Regions from separate parts of the Homo sapiens genome. Here region 1 is linked to region 2. Evidence: fine-mapped expression QTL. A gene starts in region 2. The other region holds a variant in brackets. All regions are shown on one strand. Distances are between the middles of the regions.

Region 1 (4,505 bases), 160 kb before region 2:
GACTCTTGAAGGAGGAAGGGAACTAATATCCTTAGCGACTGCCTGCAAGTCAGACTATACCTGGTATGGATGCCAGACTTAGAGGGCTGTCTGTTTAAAATGTGCTCAGAATCAAGTAGCAAGGATGCTGAAAGGGCCTGGGGCCGTCCTGTGAAGACATGTGAAGACACAAGGAACGTTTAGCCAGGACTTTGAAGCTAGCAGTCGTGAGATGAGGTGTATTTCATATTGGTGGCCAAGGTGATTTATTCATCAGCCTTCTACCTCAGGGTCTCATCCAGGACTGGAGGATTTGTGAGTCTGTGCTAATGGAAGCACATGTGGACAGACAGCGGCACAGCCCCAGCTGGGTCCACAGCCTGTATTCCTGACCCAAACTCCTCCCATCCCATGGAAATGACACTGAAACCTTTCTGCGCTCTGTTTTGGAATCTTTTAAAATAGTATAAAAATCTTTCTCCTGAAGCCAGGTGTCATGACTAATTTGTATCCTTTCAGTGACAAGGATCCAGGCGGCCTTCTTCTTTTACCTGAGAAGAACGACCTGGCCAAGATGAACATCAGTGAAGTCCTGGCGGTCATGGACACTCTCGTCTCTGTTGCTGCTCGAGAGGTATCCAGTGGCTGCCTCCCTGTTTTCTTTGTCTCATGCTTGTGGGGGCACGTGATGTGGCAGTCTCTTGTGCCCCCCTTTGCCTCTTTGCAGTATGAATGTACTTTGTTGTGGTTTTTTCTGTTGTTGTTGTTGTTTTGAGATAGGGTCTTGCTCTGTCACCCGGGCTGGGGTGCAGTGGCACAATCACAGCTCACTGCAGCTTCCCCATCCCAGGCCCAAGCAGTCCTCCCACCTCAGTCTCCCAAGTAGCTGGGACACAGGCACACGCCACCACGCCCAGCTAATTTTTAAATTATTTGTAGAGATGGAGTCTCTCTTATGTTGCCCAGGCTGGTCTTGAACTCCTGGAATCAAGAAATCCTCCCACTTTGGCCTCCCAAAGTGTTGGGATTATAGGTGTGAGCCACTCTGCCTGGCATGAATGTACTTTGTTACTTGACTCTTACAAATGATCACAAAGGTTTCCCAGCCAGCCCTTGCAAACGAGTGAGGGCATGTTACGGTTCTTGGTAGTCAGCAAACGATAAAAACACAGAAGTGCTCGATAATGCTTCCTGTGGAAAAAGAGGAATGGATTTATATCAAGTCCCCTTGTAGTGGTTGTCAGTGAGCCCAACACACAGATATGTGTTAGTGGTGTGAATTTTCAGGAAAACTACTTGGACTTTAAAAAAGAAATTCAGGACCGGTCACAGTGGCTCATGCCTGTAATCCCAGCACTTTGGGAGGCCAAGGTGGGCGGATCACCTGAGGTCGGGAGTTCAAGACCAGCCTGACTAACATGGAGAAATACAAAAATACAAAATTAGCTGAGCTAATTTAATTTTTAATTAAAAATTAGTTCCCTTTCTACTAAAAATATAAAATTAGCTGGGCGTGGTGGCACATGCCTGTAATCCCAGCTACTCGGGAGGCTGAGGCAGGAGAATCGCTTGAACCTGGGAGGCGGAGGTTGTAGTGAGCCAAGATCGCGCCATAGCACTCCAGCCTGGGCAACGAGCGAAACTCTGTCTCAAAACAAACAAACAAACAAACAAAAAACAAAAAAAAAATTCAGATTTCTTAGCAATTTCGTGGACTAATCAAATCTGAAAGTATATTATCTTTTTTCTGTGTTAGTGATTTTTTAAATTTGCCTTTTTTAAAAAATATAAGGGATTTTCTTTCTTAAAATGTAGTTTATGCTCCAAGTGGATCAGTCACTTGGGATATTTGACAGAAAAAAGATTTCTAGATCCCACCCTAAGCTACTGATTCAAGATCTCTAGGGATAGGGCTTAAGAACCTGCATTTTTCTAAGCACCCCGAGAGATTCTAAAGTGATAGCACCCCTGTACTAGGAAACCAAGAACTATCTCTTTGGGCTAAATATGGGAACCAGAGAGCTGGAGGAGATTTTGTGGTAGACTAGTCCAAACCACATCTTTGAGGTATCTAATGATGTGGACTTGAAGGTAACTTTTCTTTTGTGGCTGATAACTTATCTTGTATCTTTTGACTGAACTTAGTGTCTTTAAATCTCTTACATTTTTGCGGGTGCCTTACTGTTTTGAGTTGCTGTTAGAGCCATGATTTCATTCATTCCCAGCTGCCTGGCATGATAGGCCATCAGCAGGTGTCTCCCCCAATTCACTGATGGGGACCTCAGAGCACCTGTAGGGTGCCTAGGTTATCATTTGCCAAGGTTGCTCTTAGGCTGACCACTGTTTAGATCTAGTATTAATTTAGA[T/G]CTAGGGTAACGTTGACTTTATAAGCCTCAACTTTGTTTTTAATTAAAAAACTATGCTCTATTTTTTGCTGTCACATTAATTTTCTCTTACTTTCTGCTTTCTGGCTTATTTCCAGACTCTTCTGCCCATCTCTGAGTCTTCCTTAAAAAACTCACTTCAGTCTCATCAGTATGTGTTCTCGGCCCCAGTTAGCCATGGCTCATTCGAATCTCCATCCTTATTTCTGCATTTCCCATACCTTCCCTTTCTTCTGGAGCTCATCTACATTCTACCTGTTTCTCAGATCCCTGAAGCCTGAACTGAGTTCTCCCCCTCACCAGTCTTTCTTCTGTTGTTACATCATCAGTGCCATTGGGCAGAAAACTTCAGCGTTCTCACCTGGTTCTCATAGGAGTCGATTCTGCCCCGCACGTGAGGAGTGGGTAGGTGCTAGAGCCAGGACTGAAACCGGGGCTGTTTGACTCAGAGCCTTGTCCTCTTTCTGCTAGATAAGATAGGCCAGATTTATTTTAAGATGTACGTGGAGAAATGAGATAGCATTTTGCCCAAGAGAATTTCGCATAATTGTATATACCATTTGGAGATCAGTTGTGTGTCTTTTCTTCTCTTTCACTTACCTGTGGTACAAAAGAAGTTACAGATATCATTAAACCTCCTTGCTAGAGATGCAGCTATTAATGTGTTTCCCTGAATTATCTTTTAGTAAAAGACATTTATGGTTATACTAAAGAGTTAGGGTTCAATCAGGAAAAAAAATTAAAGGTGATCAGAAATGTACCTGGTCTGAAATTTTTCTCAGGAATCTATCAAATTCAACAAATATCCACTGAATGCCTGCTGTGTGTTAGGCCCTGTGCTAGGAACAGGGGATACAGTGATTTTAAAAAAGCACAGTCTTGAGGAGCAAATATGTCATCAGGTAGTTGCAACAATGTGGCAAGTGTCTCTTTTAAGGACTAGACATTCCCAGTATCTTTGAGTCCATTTCCCTCCATCCACATGCCTTTTCATGGCTCACTCTCTTCCTGCCTTGCCAGGCGTAACCATCATCCCGAAGCTTGTGTTCACCATTTCCTTGTTCTTCTTTCTACTTACTCCTACCCAGCACATCTGTATTGCCTGGGTTGTACCTGTAATGGAATCATATAGTGTACAATCTTCCGTATCTGGAGGTCAGATAACCCTTCAAAGAAACTTTTGAGAACAAAGGTGATGGTTAGAGAGCCATGGAGGCATGAATAATGATTTTTTTAAGGTGGGAGAGGTTTGATTAAAGGCTTGAGGGAAGGAGCCAGAGAAAGGACATTTTAAGATGTAAGAGAAAGAAGAGATACCCAGGGGGGTAAGGTTCCTGAGGTGGTAGAAGGAGATGTCATGTGGAATAAAAAACCTTTGTAAAGGTTCCAAAAAGCTGGAGGGAAAGGGGAGTTTTCGTAATACCATCTTTCTTGGTGACTGCTGGGTTGAAAGCTGTTTCATGACTTTTCCGTGGCTATAGTTTGTTTTTGCTGGTGACAGCTGCTGCTTTAGAGGATGCCCTTGGCTATGCTCTGTGAATGGCCTTGTCACGAACACTTTCTGTTTGTCTCCTCCCTTGTAGTGCGAGCTGTTAATGCTCAGTGGGGCCCCAGGGGAGGTGGGCTCTGTGCTCTTCTCCCTGTTCTGGTCCGTCCAAGGCAGCCTGCTATCCTGGTGCTACCTGCAGCTGAAGAGCACGGACTCTGGAGCCAAAGATCTTGCCGTGGACCTTATTGAAAAATGTGAGTTTCAATATAAAATCCATGAAAACAGATGGCGTTTGGGTTTTGACTCTGAGTGTTCTCTTCTTTAGTAACTCATGCAATGAGTGTGCATATGGCTTTCTTCATTACGATTCAGATTCTTGGACTGGTTTGGTCTAATTAAAATAGAATTCAACAGCATGTCTTTTTGTCTAGAGTTTACTCTCTGAGTGTGGTGGTATGCCTAAGTATTTTTATTGTAGAATTAGATCATTTCACAGCCTAAATATTGCTTTTGCAATCATATAGCACTCTTACGTGATGTCTCGCTCTTCAGGAGAGTCTATCCCTGTTTTAATCAAGTCATCTAAAAATGAAAGTCTTGAATTTTAGAAATCTAAGGTGTATGAGCATTGTGACCATTGCTGATTACCGAGA
Region 2 (4,225 bases):
TCACAGCCTTTGGATCAGAAAGATGCATTTTAGAGCCAGTGAAAGAGACATTGACCCCGACAGCTGGCTGTCTTGCTCTTGTGGAGTTATCAGCAGCAGGAAAATAAATGTAGGTCCCTGGGGTACACTGTGGATATGATAAGATCCCCAAATGAGACGGTGCTCCAGGCCAGTCCACTTTCTCAGGGCCAGGGCCAGGGCCTAGGCTGTAACTGAATCACGTGTGTGTGCTCTGTCAGTCCATCAATCTGTCCAAGCAAGTCTGTCAGTCCATCCGTCAATCTCTCTGTCAGCAAGTGTGGCTCCTTGGAGGAGGAGGAGGAGGAGGAGGAGGAGGAGGAGGAGGAGGAGGAAGAAGACATGGTGGTGATGTGAGAGGAAGAACTTCCTGATCTTCCTTCCTTCCCTCCCTCCCTCTCTCCTCCCTCCCTCCCTCTTCCTTCCTCCCTCCCTTTTTTCCCTCCCTCCTTCTTCTTTCCTCCCTCCTTCCCTCCCTCCTTCCTTTTTTCCTTCCCTCCCTCCCTCCCTCCCCTTCCCTTCCTTTCTCCTCCCTCCCTCCCTTCCTTCTTTCCTTTACTCCTTCCCTCCCTCCCTCCCTCCCTTCCCTCCCTCCCTCCCCTCCCTCCCTCCCCTCCCTCTCTTCCCTTCCCTCCCTTCCTTCCCTTCCTTCTCCCTCCCTCCCTTCCTCCCTCCTTCCTCCCTTCCCTTCCCTTTCCTCCTCCCTCTCTCCCTCCCTTCCCTTCCCTTCCTTTTCCCTCCCTCCCTCCCTTCCTCCCTCCGTTCCCTCCCACCCCACCCACTCTCTAGAACGCATATCAGGGAGAAGGGTGGCTGAAAAGGGACCCAGAATGGCCCACACAGTCTCAGCACCCACCCCACTCCCCATCACAAGCAGCTGTGTCCTGGTGCCTCCCATTCCAATGGCCACAGGGGCAGCTGGGAAAGGAACTGTCTAGGGTCAAGGTCAGGCCAAGGGGAGACGTGGCCACCACAGTTCTGGCTCCCAGCATCTCTGGATTTTCTTTAGAAAAGCCCATGACACCCACTGGATTAGCAGAAACTCCGCGAGGGGTGAGGCTGATCTACTTGACAAGGAGAGACTGACCTGGGTGCTGGAAGGGGCCATGGGCAGCCCTCTGTGGGTGACCCCCATTCAGACAGGCTGCCGGGATTCCCAGCCCCAGGGCCTGGCTCCCTGCCCAGAGCACTTCCAGCTCATGGCTCGCCAGCAAGAAGACTCCTTATCAGCCTTAAGGGTGGGGCGGCTCCGACGACAGGGCCGTGGGGGCTCGCCAGGGAGGCCCCTGCTTCCAGCTTGAACCTCCAGTACCACCCCGGGTGAGCTTGGGCAACTCATTTCTCTTCTCTGAGCTTGGTTTTCTCATCTTCAAAACGAGGGGTGGGGCTGGGGAGGCCTCCAGCTCTGAGGAGCCAACGTGGGACCCTCTGCCCACCCCAAACCCCTGTGTTCAGGGCCCGAGCTGGGGGTGGGAAGGGAAGGCAGGGACTGCAGAGGTGCTGTGCCCCAGACTCAATGGTGGCCTCCAGTTCTCTGTCCCGTGTTGCTGAGACCCATCCCCTGTGAGCCTCGACCTAGAAGGAACAGCCCTTATTACCCCAATTTACAGATGAGGAAGCAGGCTCGGAGAGGCAAGGTGACACCCAGCCCCCACAGCCAAGAAGTGGCAGAGCCAGGGATCTCCGAGGTCAGGCTCTCTCGGCTGGTCTTGGGCCCCCCATGGCACTGGTGACGGATGTGGTGCTGGTCTTGGCTGGGCACCTGCCACCTCTCTCCCTCTGATGGTGGCCCCGGCAGGACAGACAGTGGGAGAGGAGAGCTGGGGGATAGAGATGCCAGCTCAGCACCGAGGTTGACCGGGCACAGGCCAGGCTGGAACTCAGAGCCTCCTTCCTCTCTGCCTTGCTCGCTGCAGACCCCCAGGGACGAAGCAGCCAACCCTGGTGGGGGAGGGTGGAGGGTGGTGGATGGGGCTGGGGATGGAGGTCTCATTTTGGCAGTGGAGGGGAGTCGCGGGGAGTCCCCTAATCTGAGGAGACTCCAGCTTCCCCCAGGCCCTGGCCAGAGCTCCATCTTGCCAGGTTTTGGGGGGAGGATAACTTGAGGAGTCGACTGAGAGCTTTATCTTTGCCCCTGTGACGGGTGGCCTGTGGTTTCCTGCCAACAACTCCTGTTTCCGGAGGCCCAACAAGGCCCACGCAGAGCCAGGAGGGGCAGTGGGGCTGGGCCTGGGTGGCCCCACCAGCCCCGCCCCATCTATCTTTGGGAATTTATTTGTCCATGGGCGAGGCTGGCCTGCAGTCTGTTGCCTTCCAGGGGCCAAGAGCTGCTCTGATCACCCAGGGATTCTCTCTCCAACCCAAGTGCCTCCAGCTGACCTCTGGCTCCTGTCCTCTGGCTCCACCTGCACCGCCCTGCTCTTCCTAAGGGGCCAGGAAGCCCCCAGAAGCTCTACCATCGACGTGGGTGGTGGCACCCGGCTCACCCTGAGAGCAGAGGCCGTGCAGGGGGCTCAGTTCTGAGCCCCAGCCGGCCCACCATGGCACGGCGGTTCCAGGAGGAGCTGGCCGCCTTCCTCTTCGAGTATGACACCCCCCGCATGGTGCTGGTGCGTAATAAGAAGGTGGGCGTTATCTTCCGACTGATCCAGCTGGTGGTCCTGGTCTACGTCATCGGGTGAGTCCGGGCGCCTCCCGCTGCCTGCACCAGCCCCTACCCCGGGCCTGTCCTCCAGACTCTGACATCCCTTGCGTGACACCAGCGAGCCCCTCTTCCTCTCCATCCAGGGGAAGGCCTTCCTGGCAAGCCACTGTGCGAGAATAGAAAATCCTGCCAACTCGCTGTTGAGATGGGGACGAGGCCGGAGGGGAAGCCCTGCCCGGGGGCCTTCGGTGAACAGGAGGCAGAGTCTCTGGGTTCTGAGGAGCCGGCTCAGTGTTATGGTTCCTTTGAGTGGTTAGTGGTGTTCAGGGCCAGGGCACCACCAACCACAGCCACTGAGTCCTCGACCTCTGACCGCCTGCCAAACCAGGCCGCCACTGACACACAGAGGCCATACCCCACACCCGTCACCCCATATGACAAGTTAGAGAGAGACAGACTCTGCTGCCAGCTTCCCTGCCTGAGCAAGGGACATCCAGGGACGTTTGAGGCCCCCGGAGCAGAGAAACTCTCACATTCTGAATACCTGGTGCCTTCATGTTGGCATGTCAGGCGGAGGACAGAGATTGGTTCTGGTCCCAGGGATGATAGTTCCTTTCTGGGCATCTCCGGACCTGTCCCACCGGGCTGGGAGTGCAGAATCAGAGGCAGCGTGGGACGCTCCTGCAGTATGGTTGTCTCGGGAGCCAAGACAGGCCTGGCAGAGGCTGGCACACTTGTGAGTGTGCATATGGAGCTCTGTGCCTATATGTGTCTGGGTGTGTGTCCCTGGTGCTGAGTGCCCACATGTGGGTACCCTTATGTGTACATATGGCTGTGCCCATGTCTGCCCTGTGGCCAAGTGTCTGGGTGGCCAGTGTGTGTCCCCTGTGTGTGGTGCATCTTGTCCACTCACAGTGACTCTGCAGAGGTCTCCTGGAGGCCCCAGGGCCACTGGAGGGGGCTCAGCCCCTGCTGGGGTCCTAGGGGTGCCCAGTAGCCCCTGCCTGCCTTTGCCGTGTGATTCTGAGAGCTCTACCCTCCCCATTTTTACCATGGTTCCGAACCAGAACTGCTAAATGGAGTCCAGGGCAGGCTGACCCAGGGCCCAAACAAGGACCATGAAGTCCTAGTCCCCCGGAAACTTCTGGCGTCCAAAAGAGCCCTCCTTCTGTCCCACCAGTCCCCAGAACCTCAGAGCCGGCCAGGTGGACCCAGGGCCAGACCCCAGCCTTGACCTCTCCTCTCTCTTGTTCAGAAACTAATTTGACATCTGTGATGTCTGAGCTTGTGAGGGAAACTGAGGCCCAGAGAGGGGCAGTGGGGTTTCCAGGTCCACAGCAAGTCAGCAGCAAACCCAGGGTTGCAGCTGAGCCCTCCTGACCCCCAGGCCTCTGCTGTGCCTTCTCCTTCCTCACCATCACAAGGGGCTGTGGATCCTTTCTACTGGGCACTGATGGTGGGATGCCAGGTACAGGACGGGCCGGAAGTCCACCCTTAGTATCACTCCTGACCGTCCCTGGGAGAGGCTGTCTGCGCAGGCCCAGCCTACCCTTGCTGGAAGAG

Alleles and levels. Alleles are on the strand shown, and positions count from the first base shown. SD is a standard deviation of normalised expression in the study named.
For the expression in transverse colon of the gene that starts at base 2,319 in region 2, T is the low allele of the variant in region 1 and G is the other (moderate effect, 0.43 SD a copy in GTEx).

The links. PIP is the estimated chance that this variant, and not a neighbour inherited with it, causes the effect.
Region 1: its variant is fine-mapped to the expression of P2RX1 in transverse colon (GTEx, PIP above 0.99).

The regions. Positions count from the first base shown.
Region 1 is chr17:4,077,484-4,081,988 of GRCh38, reverse strand. ZZEF1 (zinc finger ZZ-type and EF-hand domain containing 1) reads left to right here. Exons shown (of 55, transcript NM_015113.4): 18 at 499-613; 19 at 3,947-4,106. Among named protein-coding and RNA genes, the nearest start is that of ZZEF1, 63 kb to the left of the region's middle. The variant T/G (reference allele first, on the strand shown) is at 2,346.
Region 2 is chr17:3,914,559-3,918,783 of GRCh38, reverse strand. It overlaps P2RX1 (purinergic receptor P2X 1), which reads left to right and starts at 2,319. Exons shown (of 12, transcript NM_002558.4): 1 at 2,319-2,695. The coding sequence starts at 2,559. RefSeq lists enhancers at 3,146-3,215, 3,938-4,007, 4,118-4,197.